Homo sapiens: one gene and its partners. The protein of the gene in region 3 interacts with the protein of the main gene of each other region in a pairwise test. Each region holds a gene or a part of one and is shown on either strand. Other genes may lie near its edges.

Evidence for each region. The genes of interacting proteins can lie anywhere in the genome.
Region 1: the proteins of C1QTNF5 (region 3) and GUCA1ANB-GUCA1A interact in binary tests that used the Homo sapiens proteins (3 or more experiments, as listed by UniProt).
Region 2: the proteins of C1QTNF5 (region 3) and GUCA1A interact in binary tests that used the Homo sapiens proteins (3 or more experiments, as listed by UniProt).

The regions. Positions count from the first base shown.
Region 1 is NC_000006.12:42,172,406-42,179,405, reverse strand, and holds part of GUCA1ANB-GUCA1A (guanylyl cyclase-activating protein 1), read right to left. Parts: intron 6,074-7,000; 5' UTR 5,793-6,073; coding exon 5,592-5,792; intron 1,127-5,591; coding exon 977-1,126; intron 605-976; coding exon 511-604; intron 164-510; coding exon 3-163; 3' UTR 1-2. Other genes in the region: GUCA1A (guanylyl cyclase-activating protein 1), read right to left, coding at 3-163, 511-604, 977-1,126, 5,592-5,792. UniProt on the Homo sapiens protein: Stimulates retinal guanylyl cyclase when free calcium ions concentration is low and inhibits guanylyl cyclase when free calcium ions concentration is elevated.
Region 2 is NC_000006.12:42,168,477-42,176,363, reverse strand, and holds the start of GUCA1A (guanylyl cyclase-activating protein 1), read right to left. Parts: upstream 3,001-7,887; 5' UTR 2,751-3,000; coding exon 2,550-2,750; intron 1-2,549. Other genes in the region: GUCA1ANB-GUCA1A (guanylyl cyclase-activating protein 1), read right to left, coding at 2,550-2,750. UniProt on the Homo sapiens protein: Stimulates retinal guanylyl cyclase when free calcium ions concentration is low and inhibits guanylyl cyclase when free calcium ions concentration is elevated.
Region 3 is NC_000011.10:119,338,334-119,345,659, forward strand, and holds C1QTNF5 (complement C1q tumor necrosis factor-related protein 5 precursor), read right to left. Parts: upstream 2,551-7,326; 5' UTR 2,362-2,550; intron 2,108-2,361; 5' UTR 2,065-2,107; coding exon 1,851-2,064; intron 1,516-1,850; coding exon 998-1,515; 3' UTR 609-997; downstream 1-608. Other genes in the region: MFRP (membrane frizzled-related protein), read right to left, coding at 3,215-3,439, 3,524-3,651, 4,263-4,394, 4,540-4,670, 5,483-5,631, 5,982-6,058, 6,299-6,424, 6,541-6,671 and 1 more.

The DNA.
Region 1 (7,000 bases), on a different chromosome or scaffold from region 3:
ACTCAGCCGGCTGCCTCAGCGGCCTCGTCAGCCCCCTCCTCGTCTTGCTCGCCATTCTGGAGCCTGCGCACGATGCGGGTAAGGTCCAGGCTTCGTGTCAGTGTGTCCAGGAGCATCTGGTCCTTCTGGACGCCCTCTATAAACTCTTCCAGGGAGAGTTCCCCTGGGGTAGAGAGAAAGGGAATCAGGGGGAGGAGGGTGTTCATTTCTGCAGTCCAGAGCACAGAACCGGGTTCTTGCCAGGGGCAGGGACAGAGCCCACGTGAGGAGAAGTCAGAGCCCCTGCTGCGGGTGCAGCAAGCAGAGGAACCCAGAGCCCAGATTCTGGTCCAGGGGCCCCTAAAAGCCAACTTTGTGGCTGGGGCAGAGGCAGGTGGAGGAAGTGACCAGCACGGGGGCCTTTGGGCCTCTCCTCCCTTCCTCACCCTCTCCTTTAGTGACCTTCCACCCCTGGTGACCCCACATCCATGGTGACCCCTCCGCTGGGGAGCCCCTCCTCGGCCCCCTCACCATCCCCGTTGACGTCAATCTTGGAGAACACTGTATCGGTGAACTCCTCTGCAGTCATGGTGGTATCGCTGCAGGGGTTAATGGCGCGAATGGCCTGGGAGGGAAGAAGGGGCAGAAGTGAGAGGGGCCCATCCTTATCCTATCTCAGGGGTAGGATTGGGGACGGTCAGAGCTTGTCCGGCTCCCAAGAGCAGTGAGGAGTAGAGTGCAGGGTACCCGGGGGCCTAGGCAGAGCTGGGACTCAAGAGTCAAACTTCTATCGTCTTTTGGTATTGATGAGGAAACTGAGGCCAAGGAAGGGAAGGAACGTGGCCTGGGTCACGCAGCTGGTGAGGCCTACAGCTGCCACCAGGATCCTCAGTCCCACATCCTGTCTCAATCCTGAGATTGTTGTTCTAACCCTGGGCTCTCAGTTCCGGGTCCCACCCCAGACCGCTGCCCCCAGCCCTGGCCGGGCCCTCTGCACCTGGATGATGGTGAGCAGCTCATCGCGGTCAATGCAGCCGTTGCCATCTACATCATAGAGCTTGAAGTACCAGCGGAGCTTCTGTTCCACCTTCCCCTTGAGGACCAAGCTGAGCGCTGCCACGTACTCCATGAAATCAATGTAGCCGTCCTGGGCGAGGGGCGCGGCCGCCGTGAGCCCATCCGGGCCCCGCTCACTCCAGCCTCAGGCCCCGCCCATCATAACCCAAGGCTCCGCCCATCTCGGCAAGCCCCAAGAGACGCTGAGGGGAGACCCGGACCCTCGGAGATGCAGCGAGGGGGCCAGCCCTGTCTCCGCCGTGACCTATCTGTCTTCCTAGACGCCCTGTATAGCCCACCCTGCCTACTCCAGAGGCTGCCAATCAAATCTAATAAGCCAGCATCCACTGGGGTGTGAATGGCTGGCGCTGTCTGTTCACAGGCATCTGGGTTTTAGCGAGCGCTGCCTGCTTCCCTGTGATTGTCAAGCATGAGCCTTTCCAGTTAGGGGAAATGGGAGACATGTGCGTAGGTGGGAGGAGGAAGAACTGCACCCCCAGGGATGGGAGCGTGGTTTGGGTGAGCTTTTGGGAGTTTCTCACCCTGCTGCCTGAGGGGCTGAGGCCCCCGGAAGGCCTTAAACACTCTGAACCCCACAGTGGGCTCATTCAGTCCCAACCCACCTCCCAGGACTGTCATCAGCACAGAGCCCAGAGAGGCCCCTAGACAGCACAGCTTGAATAAGCAAGAAAACTGCTAAAGAGGTTTCCTCTGGGGGAGGGGACACCAGGTGAGGATACTTTTGCTCTTCATTTTTTATCTTTCTGTATTGCTGGAAATTTCTACAATGAGCTGGATTGCTTTTGCAGGTTTTTTTTTTAATGTCTAAAAAGGGGCAATGGAAAAGGTGTGGATTTTTGTGCCAGAAAGATCTAAATCACCTTGGATAAGTCACATGACCTTGAGTCTCCGTATTCCCAGGTATAAAATGGAATGACAGTGTGCACTTTTCAAGATTGTGGTATGCATTAGATTCAATGAAAATATATAGCAATACTAACTTTTCTTAGTGCTCTCCATGGACTTCCTAGGCTGAGTGCTTTATTCATTTTACTCATTTAATCTCAAGCCACCCCCAAGAGGTGAATATTTTTGTCTCTAGTTTGAATGACAAAGCCAAAGTTGAGAGAGATTAGGCCAAACAGCTAGTGAATGACAAAGCCTCTCCTAAATCATCCTATATCAGTACTCAAATGCAGATGGAGATTTGCATTGATTTGTGTGCACCTGTGTGATTGTCAGACAAACCCAAGCCCAGACAAACATTTGAAGTAAGCAAAGCAAATGGCCTGTCCCCCAGGTTTCACTCCCCAGTCACACTCTGTACTCCCCAGCCCTGCACATCTGGTGCAATACCCAAAGATACAACCATTTTTTAGTGCAAGGGCTGGCACTTGCACTAAAAACTTTTTAGTTTTTATTAGAAAATGGCAAACTTTTTCTGTAAAGAGCCAAAGAGTAAATATGCAGCTTTGCAGCCAAACACCCTCTGTCATTTTACGTGAAAGCAGCCATAGACAATTCTCTACGTAAATAAATAGATGTGGTGAGTTCTAATAAAACTTCATTTACAAAAACAGGCCTGTGTGCTGTCATTTGCCTGTCCCTGTTTAACTCCTCTCTGTATCAAAACTTCTGGACAGGTGCAGTGGCTCACACCTGTAATCCCAGCACTTTGGGAGGCCGAGGCAGGTGGATCACCTGAGGTCAGGAGTTCGAGACCAGCCTGGCCAATGTGGTGAAAACCTGTCTCTACTAAAAATACAAAAATTAGCCAGGCGTGGTGGTGGGCACCTGTAATCCCAGCTACTCAGGAGGCTGAGGCAGAAGAATCACTTGAACCCAGGAGGTGGAGGTTGCAGTGAGCCGAGATCGTGCCATTGCACTCCAGCCTGGGTGACAAGAGCAAAACTCCATCTCAAAAAACAACAACAACAACAAAAAACAAAACAACAACAACAACAAAAACTTCCCAATCCTGTGTTCCATCTCCTAGCCAATCTGCTAAACTGCTCCATGCTGATGACAATGGGTCAAGACAGTATTATGCAAAGTGTGATTGTGTGCCATGGGTGTAGATGAGGCAGGTTGGGTGTTACAAAGTCACTCTTCATTTTAATATTTGCAGAGTTAAATTGATGTATATTATAAAATAACTAGCCATTAAATTCCTGATTTCTCATATATTCATTCACTCATACAATGAATATTATTAAGCACCTGCCACAATCCAGGCACTGTTCTAGGAACCAGGGATTCAACAGTGAACAAGACAAAAATCCCTGCCCACATGGAGCTCACATTCCAGCAGGGGGAGACAGGCGATAAACGTAATGGTGAAATGTTATTTAAATCTGGTATTGGAAGACGACAGGTGCTTGCGGGGAAAGGTGGGACTAGGAAATGCAGAGGTGGGAACCAGTCCCAGTTTTAAACAGAGTTTAAACCAGAAGATCACGGCAGGGGTTAGTGAGGAGACTTCTAAGCAGAGACTTGCAGCAGAGGAAGGTGTAAGCCGAGCAGAATTCTGGGGGCAGAGAGGGTCCCAGGCAGCACAAAACCCCTAAGGCGGGGGTGTGTGTGGAATAAGGGAGGAGGCCAGACTGCCTAGAAACAAGGGGTTGATTTACTTTCAGTGGAAAGACAAGGGTCAGGTTTGGTACAGTACAGGTGGTGCTCGCATGGGACACACATTAAGACATGGTTGGCTCAGCGTGGTGGCTCACGCCTGTAATCCCAGCACTATGGGAGGCCGAGGTGGGCGGATCACCTGAGGTCAAGAGTTTGAGACCGGCCTGGCCAACATAGTGAAACCCCATCTCTACTAAAAATACAAAAATTAGCCAGGCATGGTTGTGGGTGCCTGTAATCCCAGCTACTTGAGAGGCTGAGTGAGGCAGAAGAATCGCTTGAGCCCAGGAGGTGGAGGTTGCAGTGAGCCGAGATCACGCCACTGCACTCCAGTCTGGGCGACAGAGCGAGACTCCATCTCAAAAAAAAAAAAAAAAAAAAAAAAAGACATGATTAGGCAAATACAGGGTCGATGTGCCCCAGGGTTGCCCTCCCCCACCCCCACCGGCGTCATATGTGTGACTGTAAGGGTCCTTCTGCAGACATGTCTTAACCCAAAGGGTTTTCTTAGCAGGTGAGAAGATGAGATATGTCGCTGTTTGGGGGTAAGGTGTGAGGCTCAACCATCCATTTGTCCTTCCCCTCCTGTTCAGGAGTTATTCCTTCTTCGGGAGCATTTTGAGTGTTGAATGTGATGATGCCATCCCTCCCAGTCTCTGTACACAGGCTCTGGACTCTGCTCACCTGCTCCCGCTTCGGGAAAGCCCTTGGGCTCCCTCATACTACACCTGAGGTTGACACTCAAAGCCCGTAATCTACTTTGGTCCCTTATCCTTAAATATTAGTGAGTTTTAAATAGCCACTGAGCCCCAGCTTTCCCAAGAAGCCCCACCCATGATGGTGCCTGGACCTTCTGGGCAGCGAGGGAAGGAACCTCTCCCGGGTCTGCAGAGGACACGCGGCAGCGCCTCATTGCATCCTCACTTTTCAAGTGAGGGGCCACAGGGTGGGGAGCCACGTTTGCAGATTTGGGCTCTTCCACAACTATGTCTTGACCAAATAGTTCCAAATGAATGGAAGATTTACTATGAAAACCAACAAACATCTTAACTAATGCTCCCAACATCCACGGCATCATGAATATACTGGGACTGAGAGGGGAAATGATGGGCTCAAGGTCACCCAGCGGATGAAAGCTAGGGACCCAAACCCACAGTCCCAAACTCACCTTTCAGTGACCCCTCTAGCTTATCAATTAGGAAGTCCTTACCTAATGCGTCCAGGTGGCTACTGAGGAGACACAATTTGACCACGGTGTGGACCTTCAGGCTCACTTGAGAAAAGGTGATATGAGGTCACTGGGTATTTTGAAGTTGGGAGCATTCTGGGTTCTCCAGGGACCAGGCAACCCTGTCTGTCTCCAGTCCTCATGTCCGCAGAATATTATAAGTGGCCTGCCCATGCCAGACAGTGAGGCTAGAGAATCATCATCTTGCTCCCTGCTCTCTGCCCCTCTGCCCACATCCTTGGGAGCTTCAAAGGGTGTTTGCAAAAGCACCACGTATAGGACCAGCACATCGCAGGTGTTCAATGACCATCTTGGAAGTGTTTACACTCGTTTTGGAGTAAACCAAGATATGCCTGTGGCAGAGGTGGAGGAAGCCATTGGATTCAGCCTCGGATTACACTAATGTGTGGGCCTCTCTGTCTTGCCCTAGAAAGTGAGGGCAGGGACAATGTCTGATACATTTCTAACCCCCCAGTGCCTGATTCACAGTTGGTGCTCATTAAAGCACAAACATTAGATCCGTTGAAACCCTAGTGTCAAAAACCCACCTATCAAATAAACAAATGACTGTATAAATGAAGTTGCTCCCCAGCGGACACTTCTATGCTCCTCTCTGCTCTTCCTCACCCCCAGCTGGTCAGGCTTCCAGAGGGGTCCCTCCAGCACTTCCCCTCCCTGCCACTGGGCCCCTGCTCACCTTGTTGAAGTCAAAAGTCTCAAACATCTGTTCCACGTACTGGCTGGCCGACGGGCTCAGGTTCTTGAGGCCGAAGAACTGGCGGAACTCATAGAGGGTGAGTTGGCCAGAGGGGCACTCAGTCATGAACTTCTTGTACCACTGGTGGCACTCGGTGCTGCTCAGCTCCTCCACTGACTTTCCCTCCATCACGTTGCCCATTGCTCAGGCCTTCAGGGGGCTGACGTCTGAGATGGACAGGCCCTGTTCGCTGCTCCTCGCCCAAAGGTGTCTTGGCCGACAACGGGGCCGTCCTCTCTCACAGGCCTGAGTCCTTCAGGCCTGAGCAAAGAAGGGCCTGATGGATCAGATGGTACCGGGAAATGTGGAGAGGGAGAGAGCAGAAGGAAGAAGATGATGGCCCACACTCAAACTCACAGATGCCAGAGAACTGGTGTTAAGAGTCTCCACTAAATCCTTGCAGCCCCAGGGGAGACTGTACCCTGGAGAAAAGAGTTGAAAATAGAACAAGGCTTAGAGAAGCAGAGTCCTTAGGATTACAGCCTTGAGCTGTAGGTGAGAGGATTTTTTAACCCAGTTTGCAATCTTCTAATCCCTTCTTACCACCACGGAGTGGGTGTCAGCTAGAAGCTGCTCTGATCCTATGACCTTTGTGACCTTCTTCTCCTGGTTTGAGTGGATTCACAGTGGTTTTGGATTCTGCCTTCAATCATGGAATTGAGGTATATATGAGATAGAGCTGGCTTCTTGTCCAGAGATGGCCAACTGTGGGCTCTTGACAGGGCTGCTGTGTACAGTTATCCAGGCTGTGCACTGCACTTGGCCATCACAACTGAGGGGGTCCAATCATACCATGAGTGTGCTAACATTTGAGGGCACCTGGGTGGATGCAGAGTCTGTGGGCTTCCAAGATAAGCCTTGAACAGCCAGAGAGAACCCCCTCCTACATTAGCCTGCACCAGTACACAGAGACGTGCACACACATACACACACTCGTACACACTCATCCTGTTCTGGCCACACTCTCATGTTCCTGAAGGTTGCATCTCTCCCTTCTTGAGAGCCCTGAATTCATCCTTCCATCTAATTCTGAGCCTCACATCATCACCATCACCTACTAGGGGCACAGGGCAGGGGACATGGAGTGTGCGCCTGGTGCCCTGGGGTATGTGTGAGTGTGAGAGTGCAGGCACACAGGTGCATGGGTGAGCTGCTACCTGCTGGTCCTGGAAAGCTCCCAGGCCAAGCCTGGGGGCCTGTCTATGCAGCAACAGCTTTCTCTGATGCCTGGTGGGATGCGTACTCCCTAGCCACACACTTAAAAGCTGGCTCATTTATGGAACCAGCATTTGGGTGCAGGTGCACTTAACCTGGATGCTGCCAGGAAAGCTTAAAGCCAGCGCTTGCCC
Region 2 (7,887 bases), on a different chromosome or scaffold from region 3:
AACTGCTCCATGCTGATGACAATGGGTCAAGACAGTATTATGCAAAGTGTGATTGTGTGCCATGGGTGTAGATGAGGCAGGTTGGGTGTTACAAAGTCACTCTTCATTTTAATATTTGCAGAGTTAAATTGATGTATATTATAAAATAACTAGCCATTAAATTCCTGATTTCTCATATATTCATTCACTCATACAATGAATATTATTAAGCACCTGCCACAATCCAGGCACTGTTCTAGGAACCAGGGATTCAACAGTGAACAAGACAAAAATCCCTGCCCACATGGAGCTCACATTCCAGCAGGGGGAGACAGGCGATAAACGTAATGGTGAAATGTTATTTAAATCTGGTATTGGAAGACGACAGGTGCTTGCGGGGAAAGGTGGGACTAGGAAATGCAGAGGTGGGAACCAGTCCCAGTTTTAAACAGAGTTTAAACCAGAAGATCACGGCAGGGGTTAGTGAGGAGACTTCTAAGCAGAGACTTGCAGCAGAGGAAGGTGTAAGCCGAGCAGAATTCTGGGGGCAGAGAGGGTCCCAGGCAGCACAAAACCCCTAAGGCGGGGGTGTGTGTGGAATAAGGGAGGAGGCCAGACTGCCTAGAAACAAGGGGTTGATTTACTTTCAGTGGAAAGACAAGGGTCAGGTTTGGTACAGTACAGGTGGTGCTCGCATGGGACACACATTAAGACATGGTTGGCTCAGCGTGGTGGCTCACGCCTGTAATCCCAGCACTATGGGAGGCCGAGGTGGGCGGATCACCTGAGGTCAAGAGTTTGAGACCGGCCTGGCCAACATAGTGAAACCCCATCTCTACTAAAAATACAAAAATTAGCCAGGCATGGTTGTGGGTGCCTGTAATCCCAGCTACTTGAGAGGCTGAGTGAGGCAGAAGAATCGCTTGAGCCCAGGAGGTGGAGGTTGCAGTGAGCCGAGATCACGCCACTGCACTCCAGTCTGGGCGACAGAGCGAGACTCCATCTCAAAAAAAAAAAAAAAAAAAAAAAAAGACATGATTAGGCAAATACAGGGTCGATGTGCCCCAGGGTTGCCCTCCCCCACCCCCACCGGCGTCATATGTGTGACTGTAAGGGTCCTTCTGCAGACATGTCTTAACCCAAAGGGTTTTCTTAGCAGGTGAGAAGATGAGATATGTCGCTGTTTGGGGGTAAGGTGTGAGGCTCAACCATCCATTTGTCCTTCCCCTCCTGTTCAGGAGTTATTCCTTCTTCGGGAGCATTTTGAGTGTTGAATGTGATGATGCCATCCCTCCCAGTCTCTGTACACAGGCTCTGGACTCTGCTCACCTGCTCCCGCTTCGGGAAAGCCCTTGGGCTCCCTCATACTACACCTGAGGTTGACACTCAAAGCCCGTAATCTACTTTGGTCCCTTATCCTTAAATATTAGTGAGTTTTAAATAGCCACTGAGCCCCAGCTTTCCCAAGAAGCCCCACCCATGATGGTGCCTGGACCTTCTGGGCAGCGAGGGAAGGAACCTCTCCCGGGTCTGCAGAGGACACGCGGCAGCGCCTCATTGCATCCTCACTTTTCAAGTGAGGGGCCACAGGGTGGGGAGCCACGTTTGCAGATTTGGGCTCTTCCACAACTATGTCTTGACCAAATAGTTCCAAATGAATGGAAGATTTACTATGAAAACCAACAAACATCTTAACTAATGCTCCCAACATCCACGGCATCATGAATATACTGGGACTGAGAGGGGAAATGATGGGCTCAAGGTCACCCAGCGGATGAAAGCTAGGGACCCAAACCCACAGTCCCAAACTCACCTTTCAGTGACCCCTCTAGCTTATCAATTAGGAAGTCCTTACCTAATGCGTCCAGGTGGCTACTGAGGAGACACAATTTGACCACGGTGTGGACCTTCAGGCTCACTTGAGAAAAGGTGATATGAGGTCACTGGGTATTTTGAAGTTGGGAGCATTCTGGGTTCTCCAGGGACCAGGCAACCCTGTCTGTCTCCAGTCCTCATGTCCGCAGAATATTATAAGTGGCCTGCCCATGCCAGACAGTGAGGCTAGAGAATCATCATCTTGCTCCCTGCTCTCTGCCCCTCTGCCCACATCCTTGGGAGCTTCAAAGGGTGTTTGCAAAAGCACCACGTATAGGACCAGCACATCGCAGGTGTTCAATGACCATCTTGGAAGTGTTTACACTCGTTTTGGAGTAAACCAAGATATGCCTGTGGCAGAGGTGGAGGAAGCCATTGGATTCAGCCTCGGATTACACTAATGTGTGGGCCTCTCTGTCTTGCCCTAGAAAGTGAGGGCAGGGACAATGTCTGATACATTTCTAACCCCCCAGTGCCTGATTCACAGTTGGTGCTCATTAAAGCACAAACATTAGATCCGTTGAAACCCTAGTGTCAAAAACCCACCTATCAAATAAACAAATGACTGTATAAATGAAGTTGCTCCCCAGCGGACACTTCTATGCTCCTCTCTGCTCTTCCTCACCCCCAGCTGGTCAGGCTTCCAGAGGGGTCCCTCCAGCACTTCCCCTCCCTGCCACTGGGCCCCTGCTCACCTTGTTGAAGTCAAAAGTCTCAAACATCTGTTCCACGTACTGGCTGGCCGACGGGCTCAGGTTCTTGAGGCCGAAGAACTGGCGGAACTCATAGAGGGTGAGTTGGCCAGAGGGGCACTCAGTCATGAACTTCTTGTACCACTGGTGGCACTCGGTGCTGCTCAGCTCCTCCACTGACTTTCCCTCCATCACGTTGCCCATTGCTCAGGCCTTCAGGGGGCTGACGTCTGAGATGGACAGGCCCTGTTCGCTGCTCCTCGCCCAAAGGTGTCTTGGCCGACAACGGGGCCGTCCTCTCTCACAGGCCTGAGTCCTTCAGGCCTGAGCAAAGAAGGGCCTGATGGATCAGATGGTACCGGGAAATGTGGAGAGGGAGAGAGCAGAAGGAAGAAGATGATGGCCCACACTCAAACTCACAGATGCCAGAGAACTGGTGTTAAGAGTCTCCACTAAATCCTTGCAGCCCCAGGGGAGACTGTACCCTGGAGAAAAGAGTTGAAAATAGAACAAGGCTTAGAGAAGCAGAGTCCTTAGGATTACAGCCTTGAGCTGTAGGTGAGAGGATTTTTTAACCCAGTTTGCAATCTTCTAATCCCTTCTTACCACCACGGAGTGGGTGTCAGCTAGAAGCTGCTCTGATCCTATGACCTTTGTGACCTTCTTCTCCTGGTTTGAGTGGATTCACAGTGGTTTTGGATTCTGCCTTCAATCATGGAATTGAGGTATATATGAGATAGAGCTGGCTTCTTGTCCAGAGATGGCCAACTGTGGGCTCTTGACAGGGCTGCTGTGTACAGTTATCCAGGCTGTGCACTGCACTTGGCCATCACAACTGAGGGGGTCCAATCATACCATGAGTGTGCTAACATTTGAGGGCACCTGGGTGGATGCAGAGTCTGTGGGCTTCCAAGATAAGCCTTGAACAGCCAGAGAGAACCCCCTCCTACATTAGCCTGCACCAGTACACAGAGACGTGCACACACATACACACACTCGTACACACTCATCCTGTTCTGGCCACACTCTCATGTTCCTGAAGGTTGCATCTCTCCCTTCTTGAGAGCCCTGAATTCATCCTTCCATCTAATTCTGAGCCTCACATCATCACCATCACCTACTAGGGGCACAGGGCAGGGGACATGGAGTGTGCGCCTGGTGCCCTGGGGTATGTGTGAGTGTGAGAGTGCAGGCACACAGGTGCATGGGTGAGCTGCTACCTGCTGGTCCTGGAAAGCTCCCAGGCCAAGCCTGGGGGCCTGTCTATGCAGCAACAGCTTTCTCTGATGCCTGGTGGGATGCGTACTCCCTAGCCACACACTTAAAAGCTGGCTCATTTATGGAACCAGCATTTGGGTGCAGGTGCACTTAACCTGGATGCTGCCAGGAAAGCTTAAAGCCAGCGCTTGCCCTGCCCTGTCTTTTTCTCTTGTTTGCCTTCCTCCTTTACATATGGGGCACACCCAGGTCTCCTAACTCATCTAGAGGGAACCACTGCCCATATTTCTGCTTTCCCCACCAGGGCCTTGGACACTTGGTCAAGTTGTGCACTGATACACAATTTATATGATTTATATAAATAATATATAATTACATGTAAATAGATTTATATAAATATACAATTTATACAACATATAACATATATCAAATACATGTGCATACATATTTCAGAATGGGCTAGGTTATGCTACAGTAACAAACCACTCTAAAATCTCAGTGGCTGAAAACAATACAAGCTTGTTTCTTGCTTACATTACTGGCTGGGTGACCTTGAGCAAGTAACTTAACCTCTCTGGGCCCCAGTTTCCTCATTCTTAAAATAGGAATAATGGCGCCCATCTGATAGGGCTGTTAAGGGGAGTAAGTGGGGCTGGGCACGGTGGCTCACACCTGTAATCCCAACATTTTGGGAGGCCGAGGCGGGTGGATCACTTGAGGCCAGGAGTACGAGACCAGCCTGGCCAACATGGTGAAACCTCATCTCTATTAAAAATACATAAATTAGCCAGGCGTGATGGTGCACACTCCTGTAATCCCAGCTACTCGGGAGGCTGAGGCAGGAGAATCGCTTGAACCCAGGAGGCGGAGGTTGCAGTGAGCCAAGATCGCACCACTGCACTCCAGCCTGAATGACAAAGCGAGACCCTATCTCAAAAAAAAAAAAAAAAAAGAGTATGTGAGTTAATATAAGAAAAGCATTTAGAACAAGGTCTGCCCCAGAGTAAGTGCCCCATAAATCTTGGCTATGATGTTATGATTTTGTATCTATTACAGCAGCATGTCTGATGTGCTGTTCACTACAATCTAGGTGCACTTATACTGCATCTTGGACACAGCAGCATCCCTGGGTTAGAGCCAATCGTGCTCTTGTCCCTTTAGCCCCATTCACTCTGGGCCCTGGACGGCCAGAAGGGCTATGTGTAGGAACAGACATCCAACCTGCCTCACACAGGCCACCTACCAGCTGTAGTCAGGCCCTAGGGAAGGTGGAGGCCTTTGTTAAAGCCTTACCAGATCCAGGCTCACGCCTGTAATCCCGGCACTTTGGGAGGCTGAGGCGGGTGGATCACAAGGTCAGGAGTTCGAGACCAGCCTGGCCAACATGGTAAAACCCCATCTGTACTAAAAATACAAAAATTAGCCAGGCATGGTGGTGGGCGCCTGTAATTCCAGCTACTTGGGAGGCCGAGGCAGGAGAATCACTTCAACCTGGGAGGCGGAGTTTGCAGTGAGCCGAGACTACGCCATTGCACTCCAGCCTGGGCGACAGAGAGAGACTCCATCTCAAAAAAAAAAAAAAAAATTGTTCATAATGAACATATGTTGCTCACAAAATCAAAGAGGATAGTTATTTTTGAAAAAGAGACAAACTGGGACTGTTTTACCTCTACTCCACATGAATTGATTGACGGAAGGTATATGGGGGTGGGGAGCTGGGTTCTCCCTGCTTCAGTCAGCTTCTCCACAACAAGTTAAGGGACGGGGAGAGAAGGACTCCTTCTGTGAACTTGCTTGGGGCCCAGCTGGAAAATGTGTCCTTGCCGAGGACTCTCAGGCCCAAGATTGGGAAATGAAGAGGTTGGGGACAAGGCAGCCGCTCATCTTTCCCTTTCTATTTAAATCCCTCTCACTCTTCATGTGTGAGTACAAATGCCACCTCCTCTGTGAAGCCTTCCCAAATCTCTCTCAAATATCTTCCTCCCACAGCATACTGACATTTTGCTTATGTGTTGTGACAGTTAATTTTAGGACTGGATGAAGGGATTACCCAACAAGCTGGTAAAGCTTTATTTCTGGGTGTTTCTGTGAGGGTGCTTGCCAAAGAGACTGGCATTTGAATTCATGGACTAAGTAAGGAGAATCTGCCTTCAGCCTATGTGGGTGGGCACCATCCAATTGGCTTAGGCCTGGACAGAAGAAAAAGGCAGGGGAAAGGTGAATTCTCTCCCTCTCTCTCTCTCTCTCTGTCCTGGAGCTGGGACACTCTTCTTCTCCTGCCCTTGGACTCCAGGACTTGCACCAGTAGCAACCCCTCCCCACTCTCACGTTCTCAGTCCTTCAGCTTCAGACCCAGAGTTACACCATCAGTTTCCTTGGCTCTGAACCCTTTGGGCTTGAACTGAGCCATGCTACTGGCTTCCCTGGTTCTCCATCTTGCAGATGGCATATTGTGGGACTTCTCAGCCTCCATAAACATGTGAGCCAATCCCCCTAATAAATCTTCTCTCATACCTCTATATATAATCCTATTAGCTCTGTCTCTCTGAAGAACTCTGGCTAATGTGTGTGTTATATTAGTTTTCTATGTTGCATAACAAATAACCACAAAGTCAGCAGTTTTAAAACTACACACATTTATTATTATTATTATTATTATTATTATTATTATTATTATTATTATTTTGAGATGGAGTTTCACTCTTGTTGCCCAGGCTAGAGTACAATGATGCGATCTCGGCTCAGCACAACCTCCTGCCTCCCAGGTTCAAGCAATTCTCCTGCCTCAGCCTCCTGAGTAGCTGGGATTACAGGCATGTGCCGCCATGCCCCACTAATTTTGTATTTTTAGTAGAGACAGGGTTTCTCCATGTTGGTCAGGGTGGTCTCAAACTCCCGACCTCAGGTGATCCACCTGCCTCAGCCTCCCAAAGTGCTGCGATTACAGGCATGAGCCACCGTGCCTGGCCACACATTTATTATCTCACAGTTTCTATGGGCCAGGAGTCCAGGCACAGCTTAGCTGGTCCTCTGCCTAGCGTCTCACAAGGCTGCTCTCAGGGTGTCACCTGGGCTGTATTTTCATCTGGAGGCTCAACTGGGGAAGAATCCACTTCCAACTTATTCAGGTTGTTGGCAGAACTCATTTTGTTGTGGCTATGTGACAAGGGAGCTGGCTTTTCACTTGACATTGCCTGGGGGACACACTCAGGTCATAGAGGCTGCCCTCTGTTCCTTGTTACACCAGCTTCCTCACCACGCTGCTTATTTCATCAAGTCAGCGAGAAGAGTCTCTCTGCAATCTGCTAAAGTCTATATAACCTAACATAATCCACAGAGAGACGTCCCATCACCTTTGCCATATTCTATGGGTTAGAATCAAGTCAAGGGCCTCACCCACACTCAAAGGGAGAGAATTTTACAAAGGTAGGAACAACAGGAGGTAGAAATCACTGGGGTCACCTTAGGGTCTATTATGACATTCACTCTTCTACAATAACACGGACATAGCATTCATTTCTTTCCAGAAGTATTATATAGGCAACTCTTCTTGCCAGCCTGCTCTAAGGAACCCAGCAAGCTCACAGAGGGTGGAGACCATTCTGTTATTTGTGTCTCGCCTGCCCCCAGCTCCTGGCACCACACATTCCACATTGTCGTGCGCTAGTTGTTCTGTTTGCCCAGCCCCGACTCATTCTCCCCCTTTCTCCTCCAGCTCTGAGCCCCAAAGACTGACCCTACAGACTGCATCACCCAGACTCTGCTGCCCTCTTGTTTCAGGCTGGGTTCATCTGCTGAGAAGCTGGAGGAAGACTGGAGGGTGGAGAGGGAGAAGAGCTGGGACATTTGTTGTCCTCACTCCTCCCTGCCAGCTCAGGGTTGGGGCAGCGGTTATTTCCTTCCACCTTCAATCACCGCTCCTGCCATAGCTCTCTGGGCTCCTGTAATCATGGCTCCCTCCCTTTGCCCCGCCAGGCATGATAAGGGCTTCCCTCTCGCTACTGTCTGGGTACATCACCATTCCCTTAACTATGCCCAGCTCTCTGTTAATAGTCCCCACATCAACTCTCCTAAATTACCGTTTTGAGAGTAATATTTGACTGACGGGCTTGAGCCCAGTAAA
Region 3 (7,326 bases):
GAGTAAAGGACCCCCCCTTTTCTTCCATCCGCATCTGGAATTCCTTTGGCCGACCTCAATACCCCTCCTCTCCCTCACCCCCCCATAGTCAGGAGCTCAAGCTACCCAGGATCCCTGCGGCATTCTGGGGCCAGGGCACCCCCTTGTGGTCATCTCAGAAACTGCTTATCTTTAGACGCCCGAGGACGCCACTCACTCGGGTTACAGAGCAATAGCTTTCTGCTCATCGGGGGCAGGCAAGCAGCCGGAGCAGCCATGGACGAAAGTCCTCGGCTCTTTTTTGTTGGATGAGGGCAGAGGTATGTGTGGCGCAGGCAGCCCCTACGTGGTTCAGTTGGCATCTTTGAATTAGAAAAAGGTGCTCCCTTTCTCAAGGATGGATGGAGCCCCACACCAGGAGGGCATCCCGCTGTCAGACACTCCCATTCACAACCTAGGTGGCGGCTCTGTGGAGCAGCCTCTCATTCCCCTGGGCCGGCTTCTTGTATATCTGCCGCATATCTCTATTTCATCCAAGAACCCTCCCTTCTGCCTGAACACCCCCTCCACACCATGATCCCAGAAACAGGGAGCCCCCACCACTAAAGAAGAAAGGCTGGAGCCGGTAGGAGGGTTCTTAGGTTTATTGAGTGATCTCTGAGAAAAGGGCCGGCCCCAGGAGCAGGAGGGGGTGGGGAGGATCCAGAGAAGCAGAGGACCAGGAAGAGAGCACCCCACCGTGGGCTCCTGGACCAGAGCAACTGGGGGACTTACACTTGCCAGCACAGCACACTCCTCTGGTCTTGGGCAGAAATCCAGCCACTGCCCCATGCTGCCAGACCTGATCGCAGACAGCCACTGTTCCCATTCCTTGCCAGCAGCAGGACGGAGAGTGCTCTACCCCACCTCCCTAGTCATTCACAATATTCCAGGGGGGCCAGCCCTCCTGGATGACCTGGTTGTCAGCCTCACACCCTCCTTCTAGGAGTGAGAGCATGAGCTCACTTTGCAGTGGGCACTAAGCAAAGACTGGGGAGCTGTGCCAGTCGGAGTACACCAGAAATCCGGAGAAGGTGCTGTCTGTCTTGATGCTGGCATAGATGCCAATGTAGTCACCCACACCCACCTGCACCCACACTTGGTCCTCAGGCTCCAGCCTCACCATGGCCCCCCCCGAGAGCGAGGCTGGCTTGGGCCACCCCCCGAAAAACTGGAAGAAAGAGGCAATGGATTCGCCATTCTTCACCAGATCAAACTGCAGGCTGGCCCGGTAGACGGTGGCATGGACGGCGAAGTAGTAGACCCCAGGCACCTGGCAGGTGAACTTGCCGGTGACGGCGTCGTAATGTCCCTGCTCGTTCACCAGCACGCGGTCGAAGGGCAAGGGTGCGTCAGACGGCGGAGGCACCCGGCTCTCGGAGCGCTTGGCGCTGAAGGCGGATCGCGGAGGCACCGAGCACTCCCCGGCAGGCCCGGTGGGCCCCGCGGGTCCCGCCTCTCCTCGCGGCCCGGGGTCCCCTCGAGGTCCCGGCAGTCCTGCGGGGTAAGCGGGGCGGCAGGGTGAGAGTAGCGGCGGCTCAGCCCGCAGCGGGGCGGCGACTCTAAGGTCACCGTACCCCTCCCCGCCCCTGCCTGAGCTTCGGCCAGCGCCTCCTCCCGCACGGGTACCTCCTCCACCCCTTCCCGCAGGGCAGATCTGGGGGGCTGGCCAAGGGGGCTCCCGCCGCCTGGGCCCCTCCCCCGCTCAGGGCTGCAAAGCGCGGGGAGTGGCGCCCCCTGGCGGGAGACCCGAGTCCCGGACACCGGGAGCTGGAGCTGCGGCCGCGCCTGCTCGGACATCGCCACCGATAGCCGCGGCGGTGCCTTCTTACCCGGCCTCCCGCCCTCGCCTTTCTCTCCCGGAGCCCCGGGCGCGCCGTCGCGGCCGTCGCGGCCATCGCGGCCCGGCAAGCCCTGGCTGCCATGGTGGCCCGGCGTGCCTGGAAGGCCGGGGTGCCCCGGGCAGAGGCTGGGGATCTTGTTGTCGTCCAGTGGGGGCGAGCCGGCCGCCAGGCCCAGGAGCAGCAGGACGAGGAGTGGCCTCATAGCGCTGGCACCGGGAGCCCGGACGCCGGGGTCCTCTCGCAGTCTGTGGACCAGGCAGGACTGGAGTCGGGACCCAGAATCCTGGGACCTGCCTCTCTCCCCACCCCGGCGCGGCCCAGTCGGTCCCCACCCCACTGCCGTGCCCCTGAGGCTGAGCGCTCGCAGGGCCGAGCATCCGGAGAGCACAGGCAGGCGCGAGAGGGTGGGAGCGGCCAGCCCTCCCTCCCACCGCCGGCCCGCGCCAGCCTTTCCCACAGTCCCCTCCCCAGCCCCTTTCCCCTCCTCCGCCAGACTCACCCCCCCTCCCGGCTCCCCGATGGCCTCCTTCGGGGCGCTCGCTACTCCGGACCCTCCAGTTGGTGGTGCTCCAGCCCCCGCGCTTCTCCCCGGCCAGGCGCCCCCTGCCCTGCCGTCACCCCAGTCCTGGTTCGCTCCCTGCCGGCTCCGCTTTCCTCCTCCCAGACTCCAAGAGGAAACCAGTTGTTCAGGGGCCAAGAGCTCCCGGACCGGGAAATAGCTGGGAAATAACTCGTGGTGTCGCCCGGCGGCCGGCCAAAGTTTAGGGGGAGAAAGGAGGGGGAGAGAGACTTGAGCTGGGCACAGAGAGGCAGAACTTCGAGAGACGGACACACAGGGCACCTCCTGTTCCCAGGGCCAGAGGAGAGGCAGGGCAGTGGCAGAGACCAAGGACCAGACCCCATTTCAGGGAGAAATACGCAGAGAGATGAGGGTGGAGAGTTCTAGAGGCAGACAGCCAGTTGGATCCCTAGGGCCTAGGACAGGGGCCTGCCACATGAATAGATGCTCAGTACATTTTTGTTGAATCAAGGAAAAGGTCAGAAGGCAGGCGATGGAGAAGCTGAAAAAGCAGATGGAAAGGGGAAGAGGCCTGGATGGGAAGTGGTCTCGATTGTCCGGTGGCACAGTGTGGGGCCAGTCAGCAGCCTGGGACCGGTAAAGGGACAGGAAGGAGCAGGGAGGGTGGTAGGGTCCCATGAGCCCCAGCTGAGGACTTCTCTTCCCCCTCCCTGGGAGCCCCAGAGAAGGATGGGTAGAGACCCTGCTGATGCTCCTTCCTTTGTTCCCCTGCGTGCCAGCCCTGACCGGCAAAAGAGGACGGGCAGGAAGAGGGCAGGGGCCGGCTTCAGGGTCAGGGCTGGGCACAAGCTTCCAGGTCAGCTGCCTCTGGCAGCCTGTTGCAGTTGAAGGGCCAGGGGGTGCCCAGTAGTGCCAGGCCAGACTGGCACTGGTGCTCCGCTTCCTGGCAGACAGAGCGGCAAGGGGGCAGAACACTGCCTAGTGGGGTGCAACGGGGCACAAGCAGCCCACACAGGAGCCTCCGGAAATGCTGGTAGCAGGGCAGGCTTGTCAGGCTCTGCGGAGGGAGAGTGGCCTTCAGGCACCTGCTCCCAGGCTCCTCCCCTCCCAGGCCCGCCCTCCTTCCCTCCACCCAGAAGACCTTGTAACCGCTGAGGACCTCTACCACCTCCTCCTGGGTGATCATGCCCACCCAGATGTTAGGGAAGGCTGTGGTGTTGTAGCTCAGACCGAGGCACATCTCCACCTGGACAGGCTCACAGGCCAGCTCTGCAGGGGTGGAGGGGAGGGCCACTGTGGGGACTGCTCACTGGCTCTGTGGCCTGTGGCAAGTCACCGAATCGCTCGGTCCTGTGTGTACATGGGTCCAATGGGGGTGGTTGTGAGGAAGCAAGAGGATAACAAAGAGACAGGCTGTACACACTCTGAGGATCCCTGCCATCCCTGAGAGCCTGCTCCAGCATCGCTTGCCAGCCCTGGGCATCATGCAGGCACGTCTTTAATCTCAGGGAACATGGGGCACCCGCGTTTGCAGGGACTGCTTGGGCATCTGGAAGAAACCCCCTGCTCTGTGTAAGAGGATGCCTTCATCTTTGGTGTGGGCTGTGGAAAGGGGCTCTGGGTGACAGAAGGGACTGGTTCTTGAAGCCCCACCAATGATTCCCAGATTCCCATTTCCCTTGGGGTGACACTCAGTACTATTGCCACCACCAGCCGACTGTCTTCCAGGACTCTGTGAAGTGGTCCCAGAGTCAGGATGGTGAGGCCAGCTGGCCCCGCCCCCTCAGGGAGGTTGGGATGGGACACTGTGCAGTACGGCAGTAGGGTTCTGTGAGGTGGGCACCCAGCCTGCTCAGGGTCCCCAGGGGCAGGCTTCTCACCTGGGGGTGGGAACAAGGGGCCGCTGCAGTTGTCATCGCTGCCATCGGTGCAGTCTCTCCACATGTCACACATCCACTGCACACCCTTACACCCTCCTGCCTGGCAGGAGAGCTCACTGGGCCCACAGGGGTCTGCAGGCACAAGGGGCATGGCAGTGCCCGGGGACATACCTACACCCCCAGTACCCCCAGAGTGTCCTGACCAGGGTCCAGAGCCCTTGTCTGTCCCCCTGGAGGTGCCTCTACTGCCCCCACCCACTTGCCCAGGGGCACCTACTCTCCGTGGCATTGAAGGCCAGGTAGGTGGCTGAGAAGCCTCCACTGCTGATGCCATGATCTGTCCTAAACAGCACAGCCAGCTCATGGTGCGAGGAGACGAGGTGGGGGGGTGGCTCTGCTCCACAGAACCTGCCCAAAGCAGACAGCTGTTCTGGGCACCAGCCCTGGCTGACTGAGGGGGCACTGCAGCCTCCCACAGGCCTGGCTCTGAGCTGGGAGCCCTGGATGATGCCAAAGGTGATGGAAGACACAGGGTTAGGGTCTGGCGAGAAAGACACATATATTCAACAGGGAAAGCATTAAACAAACTGTCTGAACTCGAGCCACTTCTAGATGGGGAAAAATCAGCGAAGCAGCCTGGCATTGTGGCTCACACCTGTAATCCCAGCATTTTGGGAGGCTGAGTAGGGAGGATCACTTGAGCCCAGGAGTTTGAAACCAGCCTGGGCGATATAGTGAGACCTTGTCTTTACAAAAAAATTAAAAAAGTAAATTATCTGGGCGTGGTGGCATGTGCCTGTGATCCCAGCTACTTAGGAGGCTGAGGTGGAAGGAGCACTTGAAGCTGGGAGGTTGAGGCAGCAGTGAGCCATGATGGTGCTACTGCACTCCCGCCTGGGCAACAAAGTGACACTCTGCCTCAAAAAAAGAAGAAAAAGAAAAATCAATGAGGGTTTGTAGGGGAGGTGGAAGTGGCCCCTGCCGGTGGGGAGGAACTGGGGCAGGGAGAGGTTTGGGGAAGGACCTCCTGGGGACAGGGAGAGTGTGGGGTGAAGGTTTTGAGGTGAGAGCTGTCTTTAGGGTGATGGTGAAGAGACCCCCGGCCTGGAGTAGCAGAAGAAAATGAAGCTGGAGAATGGAATGTGCTGGGCCGACATGGAAGCCGGGGGTGGCAGACAGTGAGGATGGAGTTATCCATGGCTCTTCCCTGGCTCCTGTACCTGCCCAGGAGGCTGAAGGCCCCTGAGCTGCTGGTCTCATACACCTCCACGTAGTCAAACTTGCACTCGTCCTGAGCCTCCAGGCTGAAGTTGTGGAACTGTAGTTCTATGCTGTGTCCGGCAGGCACCGAGATATGCCAGGTGCAGAGCTGGGGGAGGGCATAGGTGGAGCAATTCATGGCCCCTTCTCCTGTCTCATCCCGGGCACCCAGAAGGGTCTTCTTCCCCCACTGCTGGCTGGGGGGATGGGGTGGTGCTTTCATCATTGGTGGTTCTTAAGGACCTTTAATTTACCTGGTTTCAGAGGTGAGTTGACCCAGTGTGGGAACATCTGGGTACACAGCAGGCACTTAATAATATTCCCCCATCCCCCGTCTGCTTGATCTCTGACCTTCCCAAGTAGAAGGTAGTGTCTACCATGCCATTCCCATTACACTAACTTGGGGATCAGGTGCTTCCGTGTGTGCCCCTCCCGTTCTGCATGGAGCACTGTGCTTACCAGTTGGTGAGGGTACTGCTGCAGGTAGCTGGGAGTAGAGAAAGTGCCCTGGAGGCCAGTCAGATTCCCCCCACACCCTGTAGAGAGGTGGAAGGGCTCATGAGTTTGCTAGGATCTGTGCCTCCATCCAATAGGGCTGGCGGTGATTACAGAGCGAGAGTTTTGGCCATGCCCATGGGAAACAAGTTCTGGGCCAAAGAATGACTGAGCAGGAAATGCTGACGGAGGGCCCGGTTTGAGGCTGGACCAGAGCTGGGGAGCCCAGCTTGAACCCAGATCAGACGCCTGAAGAGAGGACCCCCATGCCTGGCCCGTACCCGAGAACTTGGCACTGCAATTGGTCTCATCACTGCCGTCAGCACAGTTGGCAAAACCATCACACACTGAGTCAGGTAGCAGGCAGATGAGCTGGTCACAGCGGAACTCATCATGGGCACAGCTCCCTGGATGTGGGCACCAGGAGTCAGGGAGGCCCGGAGTCTCCACCCCTTTGACAGGACTGGGAGTGGGTGGAGGGGAAGAAAGTGGACACTCAACAGGCAGGTGGGAACACACTCACCGCGCCCAGGGGCCATAGCCTGGTACCAGGCATGGAAACCAAATCCTTCCACACTGCTGTCAGAGACGAAGACCACCAGGAGGTGGCTGGCATTGGTGTTGAGCGTGGGGGGAGGCACCCTTCCACAAACCCTGCAAGAAGCCAGGTTGGGGGTGAGGGAGGCTCCAAGAGCAGGGTCAGCCAGAGAGGAGCTTGCCTGGGCCTTGCAGTCCTATTTTCTCAACCCCCAAACTGGTGACCATGTGGTCAAAAAGGCTCCTCTGATGTCCCAGGGAGCTCTGACCTTCCTAGCACCTGCACATTTATCCTTGTAGCATCTACTCATGGGGAGATAGGCAGGAGATCCATGTTACAGACTAGGAAACAGGTGAGAGAGGGGAAGTGATCTTCCTCACGGCACACAGCAAGGTGGTGGCAGAGCTGGGCCCAGAGGTCTAGTCTCTCAATTTCTTCCTCGGTTAGCCCTTCTCCCTGCCACTCCCTGATTCTGCTCTTTAGATAGTGGTTCAGGACACGGTGGGATGTCCTGGGGACAGAGGGACCTACCTGAGGAGGGGGCCTTCAGGCTCAGGGGAGAGTTCCAAGCGATCAAAAAGGCAAGAGGCCACACTCTCTATGCTGAGGGCTTCGATCTTGAGCTGTATTGCATGGTCTGTGGCCACCTGGATATGCCACACGCAGTGGGTGTTGGGGGGGTAAGGGTCTGGGTAGTTAGGGCTGCTGAAGAAGCCCCTTGGGCCAGAGAGGAGGCCTCCACAGGCTGCAGAGATGGAGGTTAGAGTTCAG